Homo sapiens: one gene and its partners. The protein of the gene in region 3 purifies or fractionates together with the protein of the main gene of each other region. This does not show direct contact. Each region holds a gene or a part of one and is shown on either strand. Other genes may lie near its edges.

Region 1 (3,500 bases), on a different chromosome or scaffold from region 3:
GCTTGAAATTGACCATGGTGGGACTACATGACATATCAATCATACTCTCTTTCTCTTACACACACACACACACACACACACACACACACACACACACACACACACAGTTTACCAGTATACCACCAGTTATAATGTATGCATTTGCTCAACCTTAGAATATACTGTCAGTTTTTTAAAATAGCTGTACAAATGTATATTCCCACAGGCAGTGAAAGCTCCAGTTGCTCCACAAGTATCACTTCTTCTTTGTTTTTTCTATTTTAGGCATTCTAGTGGATGGTATCTTACTGTGGTTTCATTTTGTGTTTCTATAATGTCTAACGAAGATAAACCCCATTTTCTTATGCTTATTGGTCATTTGCATATCATCTTTTGTGAAGTTCCTGTGCAAGCTTTTTGCCCATTATTTCTATTTATTTGCCTTTTTATTAATTTGTTAGAGATCTTTTATTCTTCTGCTCACAACTTTCCTAAAACCTACAAGACATGAATCTCACATTTCTATCTCTAATTCAGACCTTATGCCTGTACTCCTTAGTATTGCCTAACAGAAATGCAATCCCTTACCCCTCATTTCTAGATTTATCATAGGCTTCTCAAAATCATTATTTAATCCTGAACTCATACTTCACGTAAAACCCATTACTCCTTCTTTCCCTGAACTATTCATTGTATCATCAACCCTGTAATCTATGCCAGAAAACCTCTAAATCAACCCAGTCTCCTTCTCCACCACTATTTGGAGGTCCGTATGCAATGGCCCTCCAAAATGGTTACTTCCTTCTGATCTTTCCCTCTCCTATTACTAATACAGTTCAAACTTCATTACATATAATCTGAATTAATACAACAGTCACCAGTTAGTAGCATACTGTTCTTTAGAGTAATGTGGATATGATTATAATCCAATCAGGACATTTCAAATTTAAGGTTTCTCAGTAGCTGTCTACCAAAAGGATCAAGTCCAAAGCTTTTTTTAAATTCTTACCTAAATCCTGAATCTCTTCTCGTCTGATATCTCTACACAATCAATACAGAACACCAAATAACCAGAGTCCCACAAATTTACCATGCTATTTTATATTATTGCTTCTCCCCTATATTGTTCTTTCCTCCCTCATTAACCTGGTAAATCCCCAATCATTTTTAAAAACTGAATTTCTATATTTCCACCTAAAAGTGATTCCCCAAGTAAAGATAATCACTCCCTTTATTTATCCCAGCTCAGTATACTGCAATAATGTTCCATTTTAACACATTCCTCAAATCATTTCAATTTTTCATTTGTTTTTCTCAGTTGGAAGGATGCTTCCTGAGAGTATTCTGAGGTACATACTTTGTGTCACTAGTGGCTACAGTACTTAATACATAAAAGGTACTTACTTAATAGTTAATGAGGGAGAATGTAGGCAAGTAAAAAAAATAACTCATCACGCAGCCAAAAGGAATGCCACAAACTTGTTTTATAGCTTTAAAAATATATCTAATATGTGAGTTATAAAATGGTATCAGAAACTGACAGAGAACATATAAAGGTTACAATACAATATCTGGTTTCCACTTTAAGTCACATGGCCTTCAAGTGACATTTTTACCAAAGTGTTTCCAATGAATACTTACCTGAACACACAGTGGGATGTAATCCCCTCAAACACATATATTTCAAAAACTTGAGAACAGTATTTCAAAACTTTACCAACTAAGGTGGCTTATAACTACAATATTGAAGATACCAAGACCTTTCTTAAATCTCCTCAAGGAGACTGAAGTGTAACTCAGATAAATTGTGACCTAATGCATTATATTTTAGAGTGTGACAAAAAAAGTAGCGGGGTGCTTGTCATCTTAAAAAATGGTATCTAAGAATAAAAACTTGATGTTATTTTTCCAAGAAAAAAAAGATGTTCTAACTTGCCATCATAAATCTTTGATAGGACCTGCTTTTAACTGTCATAACTTTATTCTTTCCCTTAATTTCAAATCTGTTATCGTCTTTCTTTGTATCCTCCCTCCCTCCCACCAAAAAAGTCACCAGTTGCCAGCAGCTATGGTTACCGAATAAAGAATAATGAAAGCACTGGGTGACCTACTTAATGAATTGTGATTAATAAGGTTTGGGTCAATGTGATATACAAAACTAATAAGCAACTAATAAGGAAAGTGGTCAAATGTTACAAGTTGCAAAATATCTAAATATTTAGTATTTTCAATACTTTAATGTCTTCATCTATTGGCAATTCCATACTCCTTTTCCAAAACTCATACAGTATAACTTATGAGACATCCTTCCATCCCATCACCTGTTCTGTCAAATTAGAAAATGATACGGTATTAACTGATTCTATGGTATTAACAGATTTTAAGGTATCTAAGGCCTCCTGAAGAACTAGAAAGCTAGAGGGAACAATGATCAAACATGATTTTGCAACATTCTAGGATATTTTCAGTTAATTCAAGGTACCCTGCAAGATTTTTAAAATAAACTTCAAAATAAAAGAATCTAATTAGAACATGGAAATGTTTAGTGACACAATAAAGGCAGAATGAAAGTTTATATCACAGATGTTCTCACCACCTAATTTAGTGCAATAATAGGTACTTTACCAGTACTACATAAAATTACCGGGCATGTAGAAGAATGAGAGGATACTGTGAAACTAAATAAAATTTTTAAATGCCAAAAATTACTGCCATATACTTAAATAATAGATTATTTAATTTTAAACAAATGATTCACTTGAAATAATGTTCCTGCAAATATTATTTTCATTCACTGAATATTATTCCCCATATTTAACTTATCTCTTTCCCTTATATAGCTCCATTACCCAAAACTGCAGTCTGGTTCAAAGACCTATTTCCCTGCTTTCCCAAAGGGAAGTAAAAGTTCTGTCTATGGAAAGGAAGTATTTCTGAAATTATTACCATTAGTTATCTACCATTATTGGAAAATGAGCTATCCTGGTCAAATAAACTCTCTCTTTAACTGGAAAGCAAAACTTTCCTGGGCAAGGACAAATTCTGTGGTTGAGAGTTTTCTTGCTCTAAGGCACACAGAACTGTATTTTTAAATATTTTACCCTGAAGGAGAAATAAAGTGATAAGCATAGAAAATTCAAGTCTACGGAAAATGGAAGCGGGGAAAAGTTTTACAAATAAAATGTTACCAATTACAAAGTGTGAAGTGGTTATGAAAAAAACACCAAGGATTTTAGACACTTTCTAAGTTATCACTCAAATGTAAATATCAAGTTGCCTCAAAATCTCTTAGCTAGTGGAAGCAACTTAAACTAAAAATTTCAGACTTTATTGAGAAATGCCAAGCAATGGGGCTTGAAACAAATTGGTTAACCACACTGAGGACTAAGCTCTGATTTTTTAATCTTGCCCAAATTCCCACCTAAGGGGTCTGGGGAGTCATGCCCTACAAACCATAAATTCTCATCAGATGGGTTTTATTTAACCCTGTATATTGTGACTTACTTTTCAATCTGACTCTG
Region 2 (3,500 bases), on a different chromosome or scaffold from region 3:
ACTTGAACTCTCACTTCTCATTCACAAACGGGTCTCCCACCATCAGATGTGGATGCCCAGAGGCCAGGCGGTGACAAATAGAAACCGTCCTCTTGTTCCCTGGTACCCTCTCGGGGTCAGCCCTGCACCTACCAGCTCACCTCCCCTCTCCTGCCTCCTCCCATTAACTCAGTAACGCATGATACGTCCCTAGACCCACATGGCCTCACAGGGTCTGCTGTCACCCGCTCCTGGGTGAGGAGATGGTGCAGAGGTTGACGGCCTGTCAGAGGGCAGAGCCCGGAGTCCCGACCGCGATGCGGTGGTGCAGCACCAGCCAGTCCTGGCCTGTGTGAGGGTGGGGAAGGCCGGGCTCCCTTCTGTTTCTTTCACTGCAGCTCCCGCTTCAAAGCCTCCCAGGATGACGGGGAGACTGGGGCCACACGGGGGCCTGGGCCTCACCCCGGGAAGGGGTACCTGGGTGTCTGTGTATTGTTGCTTTTTAAATGGCACGCGTTTTTACACAATCTTCAGGATTGTTATAATAATAAAATAGAACATTTATAACAATATAATTGTTACTGTCATAGAAATTATATGAATGTGGGCTGCCTCAAAATAACTGTCATATTTTCAGACTATGGTTGACCTCGCGTAAGGAAAACCGCGGATAATGCGGTTGGGGGTGGCTCTTGCATGTGGGGCGGAAAGCCAGCCAATTCTTTCCTAATGCTTTAATTTTCCAGGAAAGTAAGAAACAAGGTGTCAAAGTGCTATTCCGGGACACGGAGCTCCCTGACACACCCGGCTGCTCTACATGCCTGGGATCCCACCCCGATGCTGGCGTGCCCCGCACAACCTCCCAGCAGCCCGTCCCCCCTCCGCTTCCTCACCTCTGGAGTGGGGACCAACCAAAGTCCCCTCTCCGGGGCTTCTCTGGAAAGGAAACGTGCAGGCACACAGCAGGCAGATAGAAGGACCCATCTGCGATGACTTGGCTAACCGAGGTTTTCGTAATTTAGTTAATGCTTAGCCTCCCACAAGAATTACTTAATCAGAAGAATCTGTAATTTCGCAGCTTCTGATGTAAACTTACAAGTATCTTCCAAAAGAACTGTGCCACTAACGTGGCCCCAGGAATCCTCACGTGCTCACCAAGACTGAGTCTCGTCATTCAATTCTGCTTCTCTGCCTCAGCAGGTATGAAGTCACACCCTGTCATTTAACTGGAAGTGCCCTCATTACTAGGACTAGGCATTTCCCTTTTCCTTCTGCTGCCATTTCTTACAGGAGTTCTCTGCAGTGACGGGACCGCAACCCTTGCTGTTACTCTCGCCGCAGATGCTCTCATTGTGCTGCTTCTTTTGCTTTAGTTTCCTAAGTCTTCACTGCCAGACAATTAAAATTTAAGTCTCGGCAAATCTTAGTTATTTTTCTGTCCTGGTTTCTTCTACTTATTTCGAGCCTTGCTTGAAATGATTTGCTATACTTTCTAGGTGGTTTTCCAGTCGCCAATGAAAGGCTCAGGAGGTGGCTGAATTCCCCCACACGGCTCTGTCCCTTCAGGATGAGGAGAGAGAAAAGGGAGGATGGGGAGGAGAAAGGAGCTTTGCTAAGGGCAAAGCTGGCCCACAGAGGCTGCGCCTGCCTTGCCTGGCTGACCCCGTCCTTCTTGCTGCCCTGGGGATCATCAGCAGCAGGATAGGGGTCTGGGGGAATGACATGGCTTAGATGTTTGTCCACTGCAAATCTCATATTGAACTTGGACCTTCAGGCTGGGCACAGTGGCTCACGCCTGTAATCCCAGCACTTTGGGAGGCCGAGGTGGGTGGATCACTTGAGGTCAGGAGTTCAAGGCCAGCCCAGCCAACATGGTGACACCCCATCTCCACTAAAAACACAAAAATTAGCCAGGCATGGTAGCGGGCGCCTGTAATCCCAGCTACTCAGGGGGCTGAGACAGGAGAATCTCTTGATTGCAGTAAGCCAAGATCGTGCCACTGCACTCCAGCATGGGTGACAGAGTGAAACTCCGTTTCAGAAAAAAAAAAAAGACACTGAACCTCCAGTGTTGGAAGTGAGCCTTGTGGGAGACGTCTGGGTCATGGGGGCAGATTCCTCACGAATGGCTTGGTGCCATCTTCGCAGTAATGAGCGCATTCTCGCTGTGGCTGTTCACAAGAGAGCTGATGTTTAAAAGTGCCGGACACCCTCCTCATCCCTCTCTTTCTCCTGCTCTCGCCACGTGAAGTGCTGGCTCCTGCTTTGCCCTCGCCATGACCGCCAGTTTCCTGAGGCCTCTCCAGGAGCAGATGCCGACACCATGCCTCCTGTGCAGCCCGCAGAGCTGAGAGCCAAGATGAACCTCTTTCCTTACATGTGACCCGGCCTCAGGTGTTTCTTTATAGCAACACACGAATGGCCTGACACAGGCAGACACTGAGTGATGGGCGGGGGGCACACAGCCCAGGCATGGACGAGGCGTCCAGAACAAGCCACTAGCAAGCTTGACCCCCACATAGCATCTTTACTATATAATGATCACTGAAACACAAGTTTTCAATCATGAACAGTTACAGTGGTTCAGCACTAATAAATGAAACCTGTTAGGCTAGCCCCCAAATAAATTCACTTCTCAACATTGATTCTAGTATCCAGTAAAACACTGGTTTTAGTGTATTTTCCCAATTCTTCAGATCTCAAATACTATCCCATTCTTAATATGAAAAATGGTCTCAATTTAGAAAAAGAAGAGCTTGGCAGGTGACCAATCGGCCGTAGAAAGTCTGGCCTGTGGCCACGGGCCTACGCTCTCACCTGGTGAGCCAGTGGCCGAGGTCAGGCCGGTGAGCCCACTGCACACCTGTCTGGTTTAGGGAGCGCAGCAGCCGGCAGCAGGCCAGTATTAGCCACGGACTGGCCAGCACCATCCACTTCTCGCGGCCTCTGAGCACTTCGGAGGTAGAGGGGCTTCCGTGGCCTTTGTCTCGCTCCAGGACATCACAGCCAGGCCCGTCCTGCCACGCTGCTGTGGCCCCGTCATGCCCTTGTTCCACACAGAGGCCACACGGAGGCTCACCGTCATCTCCCAGAAAGTAGTTTCTGTAGGTTTCTTGGCTCAGAGCTAGACACAGGGTGTTCACAAGGAAGTACCAGGTCTGGTGCTCCTCCTCCACGAAGCTGCTGGCGCCCAGGCTCAAGACGTGGCCCGCCGTCCCCAACAGAATAAGAAGGTCTAGCTCTGACCACCTTGAGCTGGGATGCATGGGGTTCTGTGAAAAGGAAAGTGCACTTTGTAAGAGACGGTCTGATAACGACACACATCTTGCTGCATGTCAAGTCCTTGCTCACAGCAGAGAATGCCCTGGACACACACCATTGTTCCTCACACCCAGCACCTGGGCCCCTACTCTGGAACAGCCCCCTTCTGCTCCAACGGCAGGAACCTTCCTCTTGGGACGCAGCCTGCAGGAGTGGAGACGCCCTCAGCCCAGGCAGGGGAGCCGGACACTGCACGGCCA
Region 3 (3,380 bases):
CTGTAGGTAAAATATGCCTCAGTTTAAAACATTCTTAGTAAAATATGGGCTTTGGAACTGAATGACTTCTAAAAATGCTTTGAGTCTAAAATCCTGGATTTCTCTGCTTCCAACATGGGGTAACCCAGAGCTATTGCTAACCGATGCAGAAGGTGCATTTGCGCCTGTCACAGTGCGGGCTCTGCGCCAGGCCTGCCATCTCCCCTCAAATGGCAGCAGTGCCCCGACACTGGTTCACAAGACATCGCCCGCCTCCAGCGTAAGCAGGACAGCAGTAACCTACAACCGGTTTTCAGTTATCTGGGTCTTAATTGCGCTGCCACAGATCGGCTAAGATGCCTGGAACTTCTCTAGTAGGTGTCACTATTGTCAGTAGGAGCTGGTGGGAGGCAGTTAACTAATTTAATGAACAAAAATCACAAAGAAAAAAATTATGAGATGGAGGTGGAGGAGAGACAGCACCAGGAGCCGGCAACTCCCTGCATCTCAAACACACACGGTTCTGCCAGATAATCTTTATTTTACACATTTGCAACACGGCAAGAGAATTCACCCCGTACATCACCATGATCGGATCCCCCACCCATTATACGTTGTATGTTTACATAAATACTCTTCAATGATCATTAGTGTTTTAAAAAAAATACTGAAAACTCCTTCTGCATCCCAATCTCTAACCAGGAAAGCAAATGCTATTTACAGACCTGCAAGCCCTCCCTCAAACGAAACTATTTCTGGATTAAATATGTCTGACTTCTTTTGAGGTCACACGACTAGGCAAATGCAATTTACGATCTGCAAAAGCTGTTTGAAGAGTCAAAGCCCCCATGTGAACACGATTTCTGGACCCTGTAACAGTATCTTACGTGCTCCAAAGGCTGACCTTCTGGAGGCTCACCGCCTCATCTGGCTGCTTCCTCCAAAATCCAAAACCTTGCCTCAAAATAAGCTGTCCTGTGGGTGAGTTGGCTGTTCTGTTTCATTCTGACCATTCTGACTCTGCCCAGAACGCCGTCCCACCTGCAGACACCCTGCTGCCAGAACTCCAACAGGTCCCCGAGGTAGCGAGGCCAAGCCATGCCCATTCACTCCTGCACCATCTCAGTGTGCTCCCTCACACAGGGCCTGAGATGTGTGGGGCCCATGGCCTGGCAGTGAACCATCTAAAAGCATTATCTATTTTTCAAGCATAAACCACGCAGAGAGGCTCAGATGCATCGCTGGGCTACAGAAGTGGCCTCTGGGGAATCTGGAGTATGTTCAGCCTGCCGACCGATAACTACGTTCCAGGTGGTGACAAGTATTAGCGTCAACTCAGGTAGATGCCTTTTAAAAACGCCCTGCCAGAAACACCCTAGGGAAAACTGGAGTGAAGAGCGGGTCTTTCAGAACATTTGGTACTTTCTGGATGAATATCTTTTTGATATACCAAGAGGCATCAAGTCAAAGTCTCACTTCTATAGCGAGGAAGCCATTAACTTGCTGAATCCTAAAGGGAAGAATCAAGCCGCAGGCCACAGGCATCCTGGACTTAGCTTACGTGAGTCTTACAAGGCCAGGGGCGGGTCAGAGAAAAGCAGCGGGGTGAAGTGTGGAGTGTGGAAGCAGGGGTGCAGCAGTGTGCTAGATCTGTTTCCTTTGAAGTACAGCAGCTTGGCAGCATGAAGCATGAGTTGTTCCACTGTTCTACTGGGTGTATGGAGCTGGGCCAACAACCTCAGCAGACTATCTAATGTTCTAAGAGCCTTCCTCAAAGAAAATGTTTCAGGACGGGGGAGAAGGCCAGAATGCATCTGCAATTCCAACAGGCATCGCTATGCTCTTCCTTGGTCTGTAAGGACTGGATGCCTGGAGTAGACTGTTTTAAGTACCAAAACAAGACACCCATTTTAGTGTGGAGGAAGACCAGCCTATATGGCCCAGAGCAATAATATTTGGCATGAGTATGCCACTCTTGAGAAAATTCTCCTTAGCTTAGAAAATGCATCTTTCACACAGCTGCTGGGAGAAAACGCTGCAATGCACCAAAGCCTTTAGCCGGTGTACCCAGAATGAGCCTATGTGGGATCAATAGGCACGGGGAGAAAGATGGCAGAGAAGGGAAGAGGAGGGAGGAGGAGGGAAGGAGGAGGAGAAAGAGGTGGAGGAGGGAGGAGGAGCGGAAGGGGAAGGGGGAGGGGTAAGGGCGAGGGCAGAGGAGGAGGGGGAGGGGATGGGGAAGGGGGAAGGGCGAGGGCAGAGGAGGAGAGAAGAGGGAGGGAGGCTGTGGAATGAGACAGCAGAGATGGCGATGAGGTCATCACGCAGGAGGAAATCTCACCCACACGAGGTGGACTTACAGGGCTGTGTGCTGCCTGGGCAGGCTGGACATGTCCAGGGCGGGGAAACCCTGGATATTTCACTCTGAAGTGGTTTCTTGAAAGAAAACTCAACTGACTCAGGCCATGAGCATCTTTTACACTGAAGCAAGCATCTCCTCACAAGTGCCTCCTACAAGTCACTAGAGTCATATTCAACATTACAAAATGCAGTGCTACTTAAATTTTAAAGCACTGAGGGACCAAGAAATGGGCTGATCAAGTCCTTGGCCACTCACTGTTAAGAGCCAGGATTTACAGATCAATGACTGTTCCTATTGTCCAAGAAATAATTTTCTAGCAAAGCATACACACTTTATTAAATTTCACAGCCAGCAGCGCTTTCAGTCCACAACAGATTTCTCAGAGGAAACATGGATATTTTGCGTAGGCAGAAACAGTGAGGAGTACAAAGCAAAGCTATAAATACCACCAATGGTTCTGCTATGTGCATCCGATATTTTTTGCCCGATCTGAAATACTGCAAGGGCTTAACCATTCAAACACCGCATGACAACGAACCCAGTGGACTGTGAAACTCAGGCTGCAGGAGGGTGGCTTGTCAGCTGGTGAAGCCACTTGGCTTTGGACTCCATCGGTCATCTTTACGCAAGAGCAGAGATGAACGGTGGGTCACGGCTATGACGTGAAGGAGAAAGAGAAGACACACTCACAGAACAGGATGGAGAGCTTCAATAATTTTTTAAAAGCTTGGAACCACCACCTGCTTTCCCAATCTTGGGCTGGGGTTTTGACTTTTCTTGATCATCAATCTGACTTGAAGCCTTTTACCAGTTACAATACAGACATGGCCAGATGACCTGCTTGTTAGGAAGGCTGTGGCCATCTTTGTTTCTGAAACAGTCTTATCTCATCTGTCCACTGCTGCTCTGGAAGGGTCAGGACCAGCACTGCAGACACTCGGCCATGCTGTGAGTGAGCCCAGACATACGCGTGGAATCTGAACACCCAACGCTGGCGTTCCCGTGCCAGTCTGAGGGCTGCGGCTCCAGCGCTTGTCCA
Region 4 (3,500 bases), on a different chromosome or scaffold from region 3:
TTGCCAGTCTGTGATCCTCCAACCTTGTCTTCTTACCTGAGAGCTCTCCCCCTGGCGTTTCAGGCTTGTCTTCCCCGAGCAGGAAGCAGAGGCCCCCTCTTCCCCATCGGAGGACCATGAGGCCTGGGAGCTGAGCCCTGAGCACAGGCCAGGCCAGCTCCCCAACGGCACCCACACGCACACTGACCTTCCACTCCTGGTCACCCCTCACTGCAGGCCACCCCAGCTTGCCGGGCCTCAGAGACAACAGAGACGTTTGCCCCTCAGGGTCAGTACATGTGCCCGGCCTCTGCCAAGGCCCCCGGGTCTCAGAATTCAACCAGCCTCTCCCTGTCACTGCTGTAGACAGGAGCTCTGCAAGCCCCAGTCCAGGCTCTCCCGCTAAGGGTTCTGTGGGATTGGGGAAGCCCTGGTGCATAGCTGCAGCTCCTGTGCAGCCCCAGCCCCGCTCTTCTGTCTTCTGGAGGCCCTTGTCCCTCTGGACCTCTGATCCCTCCTGCATGCGGTGCTGGGCTAGGCAGGGCCAAGCGGGACTTGTAAACAATACGTCATCTAATATCATAACCCCTGTCAGGTAGGAGTTAGCCCGTGTCTTACAGGGATGAAGCAGAGGCTCAGAGGGTTGAGTAGACCTTCCCTCGGTCATTTCCAGCAGCTTGGGTCTGGTGCACTCAGCTTCCTAAGAGGGCAGAGCTCACTGCCTATCACCCAAACCCGGCTGTCCTGCCCACCCTCCCAGCGTCCTGAGAGCAGCCACCAGGTCCCCTGGTGAGTCAGCCTAGTGAAGGTCCTGCCACCCGGGTGGGCACCCGGGCTGTTCTGCAGCTGAAGTAGAAGCGTGTTTTGACTGGATGTGATTTCCCACTTTCCAGGTGATGCCCGCCTCTGGGCCTTTATGGCTGTGGCTGCTGTGCTGAGGGGAGCTTTCCCACCCAGGCCTACCGACTCCTTGGAAGTGGGGCTGCATGCCCTGCGTGGCCTGTGCTGGGGAACTCGGCCTAGCACCTGTGCTTACCCGTTCCACTTGAACCTCAGCCTCCACTCCTTAGAACACCTCGCCTGCCTCAGTCTGCCCACCCTGTACCACACCGTGTCCAGAGCACAGAACCCTGGGGAACTTTAAAACAAAATGCCCATTCCTTCCCCCGACCTGGGCATCTGAGTGAAAGTCCTCCTGGGGGGCCCTGGAGTCTGTGGTGTAATTCATTCGTTCCCTCTGTCTGGGTGTGTCAGCCTGAGTTGGTGGCCACTGGGCTGTCTGTTTACCACCCCTGCCCCCATGTGATAGATGGGGCCACTGAGGCTCAGAAGCAGGAGGGACTGGCTGTGATGCCTTCCTCCACCTTCCTGATCTGGCCTGCTCCCAGCCACCTGTCCTTGGATCCACCTGAGCCCCAACAGCATGAACCTTAATGTCATCGACATTGACACCTGGCGGGGGTGGGTGGGAAAATTAACACTCCACGGGGTCCCTTCCTCACCCCCAGAGATACCTGTGCCCCTGAGTCAAAGCCGAACTCTGCACATCAGGGAAACGGAGGCTGAGGTCACATACAGAGCCCTGGCTCAGCCCCACCACATGGAGAGGCGGTGGGCCAGCCTCCCCTGGAGCCGGTCCCCACCCAGCCCACTCTGCAGGATGGGCATTCTCCTGGGAGAAGATGTGACTCCAGGCTTCCTGTGCCTGATGAGCTCTACCCTCCCAAGGTAGGGGGGCAGTTTGCTCCCAGTGTCCCAGTTTCGGCTGAGGCAGCAGAATGCCCTCTGGGTCACAGCCCGTCCTGGGGGAGCTGGGATGGAGAGAGTCCCAGAATTCAACCAGCCTAGCCCTATCACTGACACAGACAGGGGAGACTCAGAGTGGACCCCGACTGTCTCAAACAGGGTGAAGAATCAGGAGGGCTGGCTGCCTGATCTCACCAGTGCTGCCTCTTGCCCCGTGGTGCAAGTGAGGAGACCGAGGCAGGTGAACAACAGGCAGAGTTCCCTTACTCCACGTGTCCATTATCTTTAATGTAAAAGGGCTTTGTATTGGGATGTGCTTTGAATCTTGAAAAATGCTTTTCACACTTGGAGCAACACTTATGGCAGAGAAAGGGAGAAAAGCAGAATACAAATCCACATGTTATGAAGCGTGTGGATTATCCATGTAATTATAATAGAGAAGTGCTGCCCTGCACACCCTCGTGTGTCCTCACAGCAGTGCTGAGCAGAAGGCAGGAGGGGTGTTGTCCCATTTACAGAGGGGGACCAGGCCTCAGAGTGATAGGTGGACCTGGGGTGAGGTGGCCTTGGACTAGGCTTCTCCCTTCTGGTTCTTTCTGAAACCTTGCTTCATAGGCACCTTTCCAGCAACAACAGCCATTCAAGACCCTTGTGCCTGTTAATTTTGTTTGTTTGTTTTGAGAGGGAGTCTCGCTCTGTCACCCAGGCTGTAGTGCAGTGGCGCGATCTCGGCTCACTGCAAGCTCCGCCTCCCAGGTTCACGCCATTCTCCTGCCTCAGCCTCCCGAGTAGCTGGGACTACAGGCACCCGCCACCACACCAGCTAATTTTTCGTATTTTTAGTAGAGACGGGGTTTCACCATGTTAGGATGGTCTTGATCTCCTGACCTTGTGATCCACCTGCCTCGGCCTCCCAAAGTGCTGGGATTACAGGCATAAGCCACTGCGCCTGGTGTGCCTGTTAATTTCTTACCTTCTCTGCAGTTTTTACCCCTGTCTGAGTGTACATTTTTATGTATTTGTAGTCACCATTGTGTCATTTGTGGAGGTCATATATATTGAACCCTGGAAATGCAGTGCTGAATTAGGGTTGATCTGACTCTTGGGAGCTTGGCCCTCCCTGGGGAGGGGGTGGTGGCAGGCAGGTACAGGCTGATTGTTCATGCCTCTGGCTTCCCACCCCTGCCTCTGTATCCTGTTCACACACATCGCTGGGACAAGCCCAGACATCCCTCGGATCTTCAGGCCCCACTGCCAATGTAGGAGGTGAAAACTATCTTTCTTCCCATCTTAGGTTCATGGCTGAGGTTCCTATAACAAAAGGCAGAAGAGAGAAAAGTATAATTTAGTGTAAGTTTTACATGATACAGGAGCCTTCATAAGGAAGTGAAAATCCAAAGAAATGGGCTCAACCTGTGTATTTTCTTTCTTTTTTTTTTTTTTTTTCTGAGACGGAGTCTCAGATCTTGGCTCACTGCAACCTCTGCCTCCTGGGTTCAAGCGATTCTCCTGCCTCGGCTTCCTGAGTAGCTGGGATTATAGGCGGCCACCACCATGCCTGGCTGATTTTTATGTATTTTTAGTAGAGAGATGGGGTTTCACCATGTTGGTCAGGCTGGTCTTGAACTCCTGGCCTCAGGTGATCCATCTGCCTCAGTCTCCCAAAGTGCTGGGATTACAGGTATGTTGAGGCACCGTGCCCAGCCTCAACCTGTTTATTTTCTATGCTAGGTTTGATAAAGAAGTGGGTCATTGTGGAGGAGTCTGACTGGATA
Region 5 (3,500 bases), on a different chromosome or scaffold from region 3:
AATGCTCATTATACAACTGAAGAATTTGAGCTGATTAAACCAGATTCTGTCAAGTTACTTATCGAAAATCTAAAACTATATTCCCAGTAAGAGTACATTTCAATTCAATATATGATATCATAAAAATTGGTTATAACATCATAAATAGAACAAAATGCAAATAGCTTAGAACACCATAAAATTGGACTCTTTTAGTATACAGAAGTATTAGTATCTATCCATGAACACAGTCCTTCTCCAAACGTTCTTTTTTTTTTTTTTTTTTTTTTTTTCAACAGAATCTTGCTCTGCTGCCCAGGCCAGAGTGTAGTGTCACGATCTCGGTTCACTACAACCTCTGCCTCCTGGGTTCAAGCAATTGTCCTTCCTCAGCCTCCCAAGTAGCTAGGATTACAGGTGGGTACGCCACCATGCCCAGCTAATTTTTGTACTTTTAGTAGAGACGGGGTTTCACCATGTTGGCCAGGCTGGTCTCGAACTCCTGACCTCAAGTGATCCGCCCACCCGGGCCTCCAGAAGTGCTAGGATTACTGGCATGAGCCACTGTGCCTGGCCCCTTCTCCAAATGTTCTACTAGGCAAGCCCATAAAGTACTGCATTTGTTTTATTTTTATTAAACATATCAGAAGCAATATAATCACACAAACTTAACAGTTAAGACAACACAGATAGCCCACTATGGTGATTAACAGTCATTACTTCATAGTCACTTAAATTTTTCATATTAATGATTAATTAGATATTCCTTTTTTTTAAAAAAATATAGACACTCCCTGACTTACAATGGTTCAACTTAGGATTTTTTGACTTTATGATGGTGCAAAAGCAGTGCATATTCAATAGAAATCATATTTTAAGCACCTATAAAAACATTCTGTTTTCAACTTTCAGCACTGCAGTCAATAAATTACGTGAGATATTCAACAGTTTATTTTTATTTTAATTAATTAATTTTTTTTAAATTTTGAGACAGAGTCTTGCTCTTTTGCCCAGGCTGGAGTGCAGTGGCACAGTCTCGGCTCACTGCAACCTCTGCCTCCCGGGTTCAAGTGATTCTCCTGCCTCAGCCTCAAGTAGCTGGGATTACAGGTGCCTGCCACCATGCCTGGCTAATTTTCTGTATTTTTTTTAGTGAAGATGGCGTTTCACCACGTGACCAGGCTGGTCTCGAACTCCTGACCTTGTGATTTGCCCGCCTTGGCCTCCCAAAGTACTGGGATTACAGGCGTGAGCCACCGTGCCCGGTTTTATTATAAAGGAGGCTATGTGTTAGATCTGACTCTGCCCAACTGTAGGCCAATGTAAGTATTCTGAGCATGCTGAGGGTAGGAGAGGCTAAGCTATGATGTTTGGTAGGTTAGGTGTATTAAATGCATTTTTTTGACTTACAAAATTTCAACTTATGATGGGTTTATAAGTATGTAACCCCATTGTAGGTCAAGGAGAATCTGTGTATTTAAATTAAAGGAACAAAACACTTTTAGAGCTGGAAGAGACCTTAAGATTACTAGTTCTTTTCCTTTACATAGAGGGTAAACCAAATCTAAGGAAAAGCCACAAGGCAGAAAATTTAAATTCTGAAATTATAAAGCCTCAGACTGAGGATTTTTTTAAATCCCAGAAATAAGGGGTTGAATAAAGAAGATACAGGGAAAAAATGTTCAATACTACATAAATACTGTAACCTAACACTATTTTTCTCTATAAATGTTCTTTAAATGAATACCACTATTAGAAATATGTAAAAACTCACAGATGCAGAGTGATTCCCATGTCTCTTAGCTCCTTCACAGATAGCAGAGGAGAGATTATATCTTGGCCAAATCTGTCATAAATGAGTACCTATTAAAAAAAACCATGTGTCATCATTATCAGTGAACAACCAATAGTGAACCTATATTAAGACAATGTTGAAGTAAATTTTATTTTAATACATCATATATACTGAATTGTTATCCTTGCCTCAATTTAACATTTTCCATCATTATCAGTGAACAACCAATAGTGAACCTATATTAAGACAATGTTGAAGTAAATTTTAATACATCATATATACTGAATTGTTATCCTTGCCTCAATTTAATATTTTCCATCATTATTTACCCAAATGTCCATCCAGGCAGTAATACGTTCTTAAAGCATTACTACTCAGGCTAAAATAAATAATTATATCAATTTCTTCTTATAAAATTCTTTTTTCTAGGTTTTAAAAAAATAGAGACTATAAAATCCTTAAGCTATCATAAACTTTGAACTTAAAGCCAATTCACGTTCATACCCTTATTTTTTTTCCAGTTCACATATATCTTTTCTAAAAACAGAGATGTAAAAATTAGCCATTTTCAAAACTAATATATAACAAGTTCCAGGACCACAATAAAAAATTTAGTATTTTAAGCATCTCAGGTTAAAAAGATACTCATTAAAAAAAATTAAGTCCCTGGCTGTGGCACAGTGGCTCACGCCTGTAATCTCAGCACTTTTGGAGGCCGAGGTGGGCGGATCACTAGGTCAAGAGATAGAGACCATCCTGGCCAACATGGTGAAACCCTTTCTCTACTAAAAATACAAAAATTAGCTGGGTGTGGTGGCACGTGCCTGTAATCCCAGCTACTCTGAAGGCTGAGGAAGGAGAATCACTTGAACTTGGGAGGCGGAGGCTGCAGTGAGCTGAGATTGCGCCACTACATTCCAGCCTGGCGACAAAGCGAGATTCCATCTCAAAAAAAAAAAAAAAAAAATTAAGTCCCTAAAGAGTATTTGATAGACTTAGTCTATCAAATACACTTCCTCACATTCTCAAAGTATTAAAACAGACAGCTTTGAGGTGTGGTAAGAACTCCAAATGGGCTTTTTAACTCAAAATTAGTTTCACGGTTAAGACAAATAAAAGAGATCCTCAACTGGTAAGCATTTTTCACAACTACCTCAATAATTATTTATGGAGTAAGAAATTGTTAATGAGAGAATGAAACATGTTGTTATGAAAACACATTTTCTTAAATGCCAGGATTTCCTTTAAAGAGGCTAAAAATCTTTCTGCTCTAGTTATAAAAGGTTCACGTTGCATCTTTCAAAAATCTTCCCTCTTTTAATCTCAATACATGTGTATTATTAATTTTAATGATATAAAAAGTGATGGGTAGGAAAAGTATCTGACAAAAATTTGTACCCAAGAAATTCTCAAACTATTTCAACCAAAAGCTCAATATTGGTCTTAGAAACAAGCAAGTATAGTTTATGCAAGAGGCAATAGGAAGATGCCCACAAAGGAACAAGAAGGAGAAAATTAGGGAATACTCTGGAGCTTAAACTATGAAATCAATACAGACAACTTTAACTACTTTTAGAGTTAACCCAAAGGACTTATAAAGACTCAAGAGAGTTTTCAAAACACCCTAAATTCTAAACATGTTGATTTGTTCTTAATTTTTAGCAAGAGAGAAATATAAAGAGACTGTTAACCAGTAAGTTTAAACCCAATCAACTGTATTATAACA
Region 6 (3,500 bases), on a different chromosome or scaffold from region 3:
CCTACATGTCTCATCTTGTATTGTCAAAGGGAAAAAATGAAAAAAAAAAAAAAAAACTACATGCAATTTGATATATCTAGCACTTCAACACAGATGAGGTTTGAAGTAACAAAAGATTAACAATAATGCAAAATGCTGTCATATTTTTATACATCATTTTCATATTAAATATAATTTTAAAATAAAAACAATCAAAATTACCTTCACTGCCCAAAAGTCACACGACAACAACAAGATAATTGTAACCATACAGGTAATAAAGCTGCTGCTGAGCAACTCACAGAGAAGACAGACGATGATTGCACTGACTCGAAAGAATAAGTGGAAAAACGATGCTACTGGATGTCTGAAAACCAAAACACAATGAAAGAAATGCAATTACATTTTACTACAGGTACTAGCAAATGTAGAGAAAAATGTTTTAGCCATCGTGTAACTGTGAAGAGTTTTGTCAAAATAAAAGAGGTGACTTTAGTAGGAGGAAGCAAACCTCCTAGCTCTCTTTTTCTTAAGCCCCACTATTTGACTAGGCCCTATAGTGACAGAAAATACACTATGCACAGATGACTTTAACACCTCATTGAATATAAACTTTCACAAAATAGATAATAAAGAATTTTACCTCTCTTGGAGAAATAAGGAAACCGTATCTTAGAATTTGAATCCTATTTTCAAATCACGCCAAAAGAATTCCTTAGCCCTCAGAAATCACTCAGACATTAAGACAAAGTTATCAGGTAGTTTGTTTGTTTCTTTTTTTTTTTTTTTTTTTGAGACGGAGTCTCGCTCCGTCGCCCAGGCTGGAGTTTGGTGGCGCAATCTCGGCTCACTGCAAACTTCACCTCCTGGGTTCACGCCATTGTCCTGCCTCAGCCTCCCAAGTAGCTGGGACTACAGGCGCCTGCCACCACGCCCGGCTAATTTTTTGTATTTTTAGTAGAGATGGGGTTTCACCATGTTAGCCAGGATGATCTCAATCTCCTGACCTCGTGATCCACCTGCCTCGGCCTCCCAAAGTGCTGGGATTACAGGCGTGAGCCATCGCGCCCAGCCTGTTTCTTGTTTTTTAATAGCTTTTTTGAGATATAATTCACATATCATACAATTTACTTATTTAAGGTAAACAATCTAATGGTTTTTAGTACATTCACAGATTTGTACAACCATCACTCCAATTTTACAACTTTTCATTACCCCAGACAGAATCTTTGCACCCACTGGCAGTCATTCCCCATTTACCTTCAAACCCCTCAGCTTCTAGCAACAGCTAATCTATCTTCTGTCTCTACAGATTTGCCTATTCTGGACATTTCATATAAATGAAATCATACAATATGTGGTCTTTTGTGACTGGCATGAAAGATGAAAGAAAAGTAAAAAACAGCATTTTAGCAGGGTTCAAGTAGAATTTGCTTTCGATAAGTGAATTTATTTAGAGAGAATTAAATTTAGAATAGAAATGTTATGTGATTTTGAAATGTGCACAATAAATCAAAATGTAAAGTATCTACAGAAACTATATAAAGAAATGGTACATTCTTGGAAAATAGCACAGAATTAAAAACACAGGTGTTCAAATAATTGGATTTGCTGATTTTAAAACTCAGTATTAAGTATGCCAATTATTCACAAGAAAATCTGAAATGTCATCTTTGTCTTACACTAAATGTTAAATTAGCAACATGCAGTATTCACAAGCACATTGAAACAACTCTGCCTTGACTCCCATCAGCTAGCACTGACATACATACAGAACAACACTGGACACTAACACAGCTCATGCAACTTCTCCTCCTACCTGATTTTGGCTTTTCTTGGTCTATTAGTCGTCTCCTCTTCCGCATCAAACAGTGAAACATCTTCAGTGTCATCATTACTATCCTGGTTGGAAAAATAAATGGTCAAGAAGCAAAACAAAATTCAGTGTTTACACAGCCACTGCAATGCAAAGCTGCATACTCATCAAAATAGAAGATAAAATAATGTGGTTACAGCATCAGGAATTCAAAACCTAGAAAAGGACACATGCAGATCCTCCACCCGCCTCCTCAAATCATCTGGCAAAAACCCCAGAGAATAATCGAAGTCTCAGCTCCTCCATCCCTGCCCCTAGGCTGCACCATCTGAGAAAACTCTGGGGTGCAGATGAGGCTACTACAACTTAACACCTGTCCTCCTCACCTGTTCTCTCCCAAGTCACAGAGCAAGCCGAGGCTACTGGGGATAATCTCAAGGTTTCTGGCTCCTTCACAAAATCATCTGACTGCATCCTTAGTTCCATGACCCCTTCTCACAACTCCTCCTCTTCTTATCCAAGGCTAAACCAATTATTTGTGCTCAGAATAACTTCTTTTCATGCCTCCTCGGGGATTTGTTTCATCATTTTCCCCTGTATTTACACTTTCTTCTATCTTCAAGTCTATCTATTGGATCTTTCTTTTTTGTTGTTGTTGAAATGGGGTTTTGCTCATCACCCAGGCTGGAGTACAATGGCACGATCTTGGCTCACTGCAACCTCCGCCTCCCGGGTTCAAACGATTCTCCTGCTTCAGCCTTCCAAGTTGCTGGGATTACAGGCGTGTGCCACCACACCCAGCTAATTTTCATATTTTTAGTTGAGACGGGGTTTCACCATGTTGGCCAGGCTGGTCTTGAACTCCTGACCTCAGGTGATCTGTCCGCCTCAGCCTCCCAAAGTGCTGGGATTACAGGCCTGAGCCACCACGCCTGGCCTCTATTGAATCTTTCTAATCAGCATATGCATATAAACTTCTTCAAGGCCACTTATTAGGCAAAAAAAGATTTTTTTAAGAACCCTGATCCTGAATCTCCTCTTCAATCCTCTACCTTCCCAAAGCATTGCTTCCTTTTACCTTAGGCTTTTTTTTTTTTTTTTGAGATGGAGTCTTGCTCTGTCGCTCAGGCTGGAGTGCAGTGGCGTGGCCTCAACTCACTGCAACCTCTGCCTCCTGGGTTCAAGTGATTCTCCTGCCTCACCTTCCCAAGTAGCTGGGACTACAGGCGCGTGCCACCATGCCTGGCTAATTTTTTGTATTTTTTTAGTAGAGACAGGTTTCACCGTGTTAACCAGGAGATTTCATGACCTTGTGATCCACCCGCCTCGGCCTCCCAATTGCTGGGATTACAGGCGTGAGCCACCATGCCCGGCCCCATAACCTTAGGCTTCTAAGAGTGGTTCACACCTCAATTCACTGCAATTCCCCTCAACTACAACAAACCTGATCCTGTTCCTCTCCTAGCGCCACTCACCAGCCTCCCTGCCTTTATCCCTCTCTATTCCAGCCTCTCCTTTACATTACCCAGAGCAATCCTCCCAATATGGAAATCACACCATGTCACTCTACTGCTCAAATTTTTCAATGGCATCCCTACAAGTATAGGATAAAATTTAACTCCTTCACATAAAGCATAGAAGATCACAGAATCTAATGCCCCCTACTTGCTTCTGACACTGTCTTCATTGAGCACTGTTGAGCACT
Region 7 (3,415 bases), on a different chromosome or scaffold from region 3:
CACGGCTCACTGCACAGGGATTTCTCTCTCCTGCAAACCCCCCGAGTGGGGCCCAGAAAGCAGGGTACCTGGCAGCCCCCGCCAGTGTGTGTGGGTGAAATGATCGGACCGCTGCCTCCCCACCCCACTGCAGGAGCTGAGGAGTGTGAGCGTGCCGTCATCGACTTTGTGGCTTTCCAGGACATCTCCATCAAGAGGCTGCAGCGGCTGCTGCAGGCCCTCGAGGCCCCGGAGGGCTGGGGTCCGACACCAAGGGCGGGCCGCGCGGCCTTGCAGCTGAAGCTGCGTCGGCGGCTCACGGAGCTCCTGGGGGCGCAGGACGGGGCGCTGCTGGTGCGGCTGCTGCAGGCGCTGCGCGTGGCCAGGATGCCCGGGCTGGAGCGGAGCGTCCGTGAGCGCTTCCTCCCTGTGCACTGATCCTGGCCCCCTCTTATTTATTCTACATCCTTGGCACCCCACTTGCACTGAAAGAGGCTTTTTTTTAAATAGAAGAAATGAGGTTTCTTAAAGCTTATTTTTATAAAGCTTTTTCATAAAACTGGTTGTAGTTGCACAGCTACTGGGAGGGCAGCCGGGGACACCTGAGCCGCCCGCTGTGCCCAGATCCCTCAGGCTGCCTGCCATCAGAACTGCTGCCCGGGGCTTCCCCTACCTCAGACAGACCCTCCCTGGGAGGATCAGTGGGGAGTGCCACCTCTGCCCCCAGTGGCTGTGGCACGTGGCAGGGGCCCCTGAAGCTCAGCGAGGGTCAGGGCCTGGGAGGGTATCATTGCTGGAAGAACAGGATGGGGCTCAGGCCAGCCCTAGTCGCCGGGGCCCACACTAACCCCCCACTTATGAATTCCTCCCACTCCCAACTCACAGGGGATTTCCCGAGAGGGGACCTGCCAAAGACCTCCTCCAGGCCTCCCATGCTTTCCGGGAAGTGAAGCTTCTCCCTCTCTGGGGCAGGCTCTGAAGCCTCCCGATGCACCCAGAGCAACCGGGGGGCTGCACCAGCCACTCGCCTCCCCAGCACGGCCAGGTTCCCGGGGCTGGAGGTCCCCCCCAGGTCCTGGGAACCAACCTGCAGAACACACACAGGGTCCCCTGGAGAGGACGCGGGGACTTCCAGGGCCCGACTCCTGTGAGTCACAGCCCCGCAGCTGCTGCGCCACCCCCACCCTGACTCATGCCCCTTCCCAGCAGCTCCTCCCAGGACCCCATGTCCTTCCCACATCCGCAGGAAGGGAGTGCCTGGACTCTCCAGGCCCACCTGGGGAGCCCCTCACCTGCCCACCAGCCCCTGAGCAGCCCAGTAACACCATCACCGTGTCCAACAGCCAGGAGCCTCCACCCTCCAGGAGGGAAGGGATGGACAGAGCCACACTCGCCGTCTTTATTTTGCACTCACCCTGGGTGACACTGGGCAGGCCGCTCCTGCCCACAGCCAGACTGAGGAAGAACACAGCACTCGGCAGGCCCAGTGGGGTCCGTGCAGGGAGGACCCCAGGACCAGCCTTACTCCCGAGCAGGGGACACAGGGCCCCACAGAGAACCCCTCCGGGAGGTTCTCTCCTGGCTGGGGGAGGGCTCTGGACCCCCACAAACACTCCCCAACTTGCGGGGCTGGGGCATAAAAACAGCCACTCCCAGCAGGCCCCCTCAGCTTTTTGCATCAGTCAGCTCCCTCCCGGGGGATTAGGGTGAGGTGAAGCCAGGCCCAGGCGTGGGGTATAGGTCTTCCCCCGCAGGCCTCAGCCCTGTCCCGAGGCTGCATCACAATCCAGGGCCCCCGCTGGCCTTTGGGAACATGGCCTGGGTCTTCCTCAAGGCAAGATCAGCCCCAGACCACTTCCGGGGTCACGGGGTCACGGGGTCACAGGGCAGAAGCCAGATGGCAGCCATGGCTGACGGGCCTCCTCCTCGATGGGGCGGAGACAGCCACGGGGTCTCCCGAGGGTCCCACAGGGCTGTCCTCATGCAGCCCAAGCCAGCCTGAGCACTGGAGCCCCAATTCCCAACCAGGTCTCCCTCAGACCCCCCAGAAAGGGCCTCGAAAGGCCGCCGCTGCGCCCTGTGGAAAGGCTGCCGCTGCAGGGCCTGGGCCAGCCGGGCTGCCAGACTCCCCTCCAAAGCCTCCGGATGCCTACGCTTTTCCAGACATAGAGGAAAGTTTGTCTTCGAGAAAACAAAGTAAATAGAAGAACCCCAAAGCAAAGCAAACCCACCCCCCAGATCAGCAGCATGGGAGCCAACAGGAGGCCACTCCTCCAGCACCAGGGGACCAGCCGTCCCGACGGCAGCGCGGCTGCGCCTACGTGATGTCCCTCTGCCGCGGCGGCCGGTGCACATTCCGCACGACACACTTCACCATCCACTCGATGCCCTCGCGCACCCCTTTGCTGTGAAGACAGCGGGTGTGAGGCGGGGGGTCTCGGTCCCCAAAGCCCCCGCAGGTGCAGCCCCCACTCACCCTGTGAGGGCCGAGCAGGCCTGGGTCAGGCAATCTCGCCTGCCGATCTTGCTGGTGCAGTCGCTGAAGGCCGTCTTGATGTCAGGGATTGAGAGGCACGTCTGGGGGAGGTAAGGCCGTGAGGAGCAGCCCCCACGTCTGGCCCTGTCCTGCCTGTGGGCCCGGGACTCTCAGAAGGGCGTATGCCCTTCACCCCAGGGAAACAGCCAGAGCTCCACCAGGGTCCCAGTGTCTCCCACAGAGACCACAGCAGTGAGGACCCTGTGCTCAGCCCGAGGCTGAACATGGCTGGTAGTGCCTGAGACAAACTAGACGTCCACACGGCTCCAAGGAGTCCACCCCCCATCCCCTCCCTGGGGGACACCCTGAGCCCCGAGGTGGGGCGCTGAGGACTGAGGCCTCCTGGGCAGTGGCGGAGGCAGGTCCCAGGGGCCCACACAGCCGGGGATGATGGAGAGGTGGGAGCCCTGCATCAGTGATGGAGGCAGTCTGCAGTCATGGTGGCTTCTGCTCACAACCACCTGCCCAGTCTTCAAAAAGCAGCCCTCCCCTCCCCTTTTCCTCCGAGGGGAGACCCCTGCCCCGTACCAGATGTCCCTCTTGTCGGCTGAGATTGTAGGGGAGGCCAGCCTTACAGGCTGGGGGCAACAGAGCCACCCCAGAGAAGGCAGGAAGTGAAGATTCACCTGGCCCTCTGGACGCCGGGCTGCTTCTGTGCAAAGCCACTCCAAGAGAACAGCTAGAACTCAGCGTGGCCAGTGCTCCCGGGGGCAGTGGCACCTCAGAGGGGTCTTGAGGGGCTGCCCTGGGGGTGGGGCTGGCACAGATGCCACCTCCAAGGGTAGCAGGAACAGGTAAGGGTCAGAGCTGACTCCCACCAGGGCCCCAGCATCACTTCTTTGAGCTCTGAGTTTCACCTGGGTGTCCCCACAGCTTGGCCACACACTCCTGAGACACGGC

What was found.
Region 1: the proteins of GPR107 (region 3) and ECHDC1 purify together in Homo sapiens (co-immunoprecipitation; one large-scale study listed by IntAct). This does not show direct contact.
Region 2: the proteins of GPR107 (region 3) and PIGG purify together in Homo sapiens (co-immunoprecipitation; one large-scale study listed by IntAct). This does not show direct contact.
Region 4: the proteins of GPR107 (region 3) and KIAA0930 purify together in Homo sapiens (co-immunoprecipitation; one large-scale study listed by IntAct). This does not show direct contact.
Region 5: the proteins of GPR107 (region 3) and SCFD1 purify together in Homo sapiens (affinity purification with mass spectrometry; one large-scale study listed by BioGRID and IntAct). This does not show direct contact.
Region 6: the proteins of GPR107 (region 3) and TVP23C purify together in Homo sapiens (affinity purification with mass spectrometry, with the first as the bait; one large-scale study listed by BioGRID). This does not show direct contact.
Region 7: the proteins of GPR107 (region 3) and ARFRP1 purify together in Homo sapiens (affinity purification with mass spectrometry; one large-scale study listed by BioGRID and IntAct). This does not show direct contact.

Annotation. Positions count from the first base shown.
Region 1 is NC_000006.12:127,333,610-127,337,109, forward strand, and holds part of ECHDC1 (ethylmalonyl-CoA decarboxylase), read right to left. Parts: intron 1-3,500. UniProt on the Homo sapiens protein: Decarboxylates ethylmalonyl-CoA, a potentially toxic metabolite, to form butyryl-CoA, suggesting it might be involved in metabolite proofreading. Acts preferentially on (S)-ethylmalonyl-CoA but also has some activity on the (R)-isomer.
Region 2 is NC_000004.12:523,210-526,709, reverse strand, and holds part of PIGG (GPI ethanolamine phosphate transferase 2, catalytic subunit), read right to left. Parts: intron 3,252-3,500; coding exon 2,797-3,251; intron 1,540-2,796; coding exon of another isoform or gene 1,472-1,539; exon of another isoform or gene 906-1,471; intron 1-905.
Region 3 is NC_000009.12:130,137,285-130,140,664, reverse strand, and holds the end of GPR107 (protein GPR107 isoform 3 precursor), read right to left. Parts: 3' UTR 501-3,380; downstream 1-500. UniProt on the Homo sapiens protein: Has been proposed to act as a receptor for neuronostatin, a peptide derived from the somatostatin/SST precursor.
Region 4 is NC_000022.11:45,230,895-45,234,394, reverse strand, and holds part of KIAA0930 (uncharacterized protein KIAA0930), read left to right. Parts: intron 1-3,500.
Region 5 is NC_000014.9:30,628,819-30,632,318, reverse strand, and holds part of SCFD1 (sec1 family domain-containing protein 1), read right to left. Parts: intron 1,843-3,500; coding exon 1,754-1,842; intron 1-1,753. UniProt on the Homo sapiens protein: Plays a role in SNARE-pin assembly and Golgi-to-ER retrograde transport via its interaction with COG4. Involved in vesicular transport between the endoplasmic reticulum and the Golgi.
Region 6 is NC_000017.11:15,553,484-15,556,983, forward strand, and holds part of TVP23C (Golgi apparatus membrane protein TVP23 homolog C), read right to left. Parts: intron 1,882-3,500; coding exon 1,799-1,881; intron 347-1,798; coding exon 202-346; intron 1-201. Other genes in the region: TVP23C-CDRT4 (uncharacterized protein LOC100533496), read right to left, coding at 202-346, 1,799-1,881.
Region 7 is NC_000020.11:63,698,147-63,701,561, forward strand, and holds the end of ARFRP1 (ADP-ribosylation factor-related protein 1), read right to left. Parts: intron 2,557-3,415; coding exon 2,456-2,556; coding exon of another isoform or gene 2,452-2,455; exon of another isoform or gene 2,385-2,451; coding exon 2,297-2,384; 3' UTR 501-2,296; downstream 1-500. Other genes in the region: TNFRSF6B (tumor necrosis factor receptor superfamily member 6B precursor), read left to right, coding at 134-417. UniProt on the Homo sapiens protein: Trans-Golgi-associated GTPase that regulates protein sorting. Controls the targeting of ARL1 and its effector to the trans-Golgi. Required for the lipidation of chylomicrons in the intestine and required for VLDL lipidation in the liver.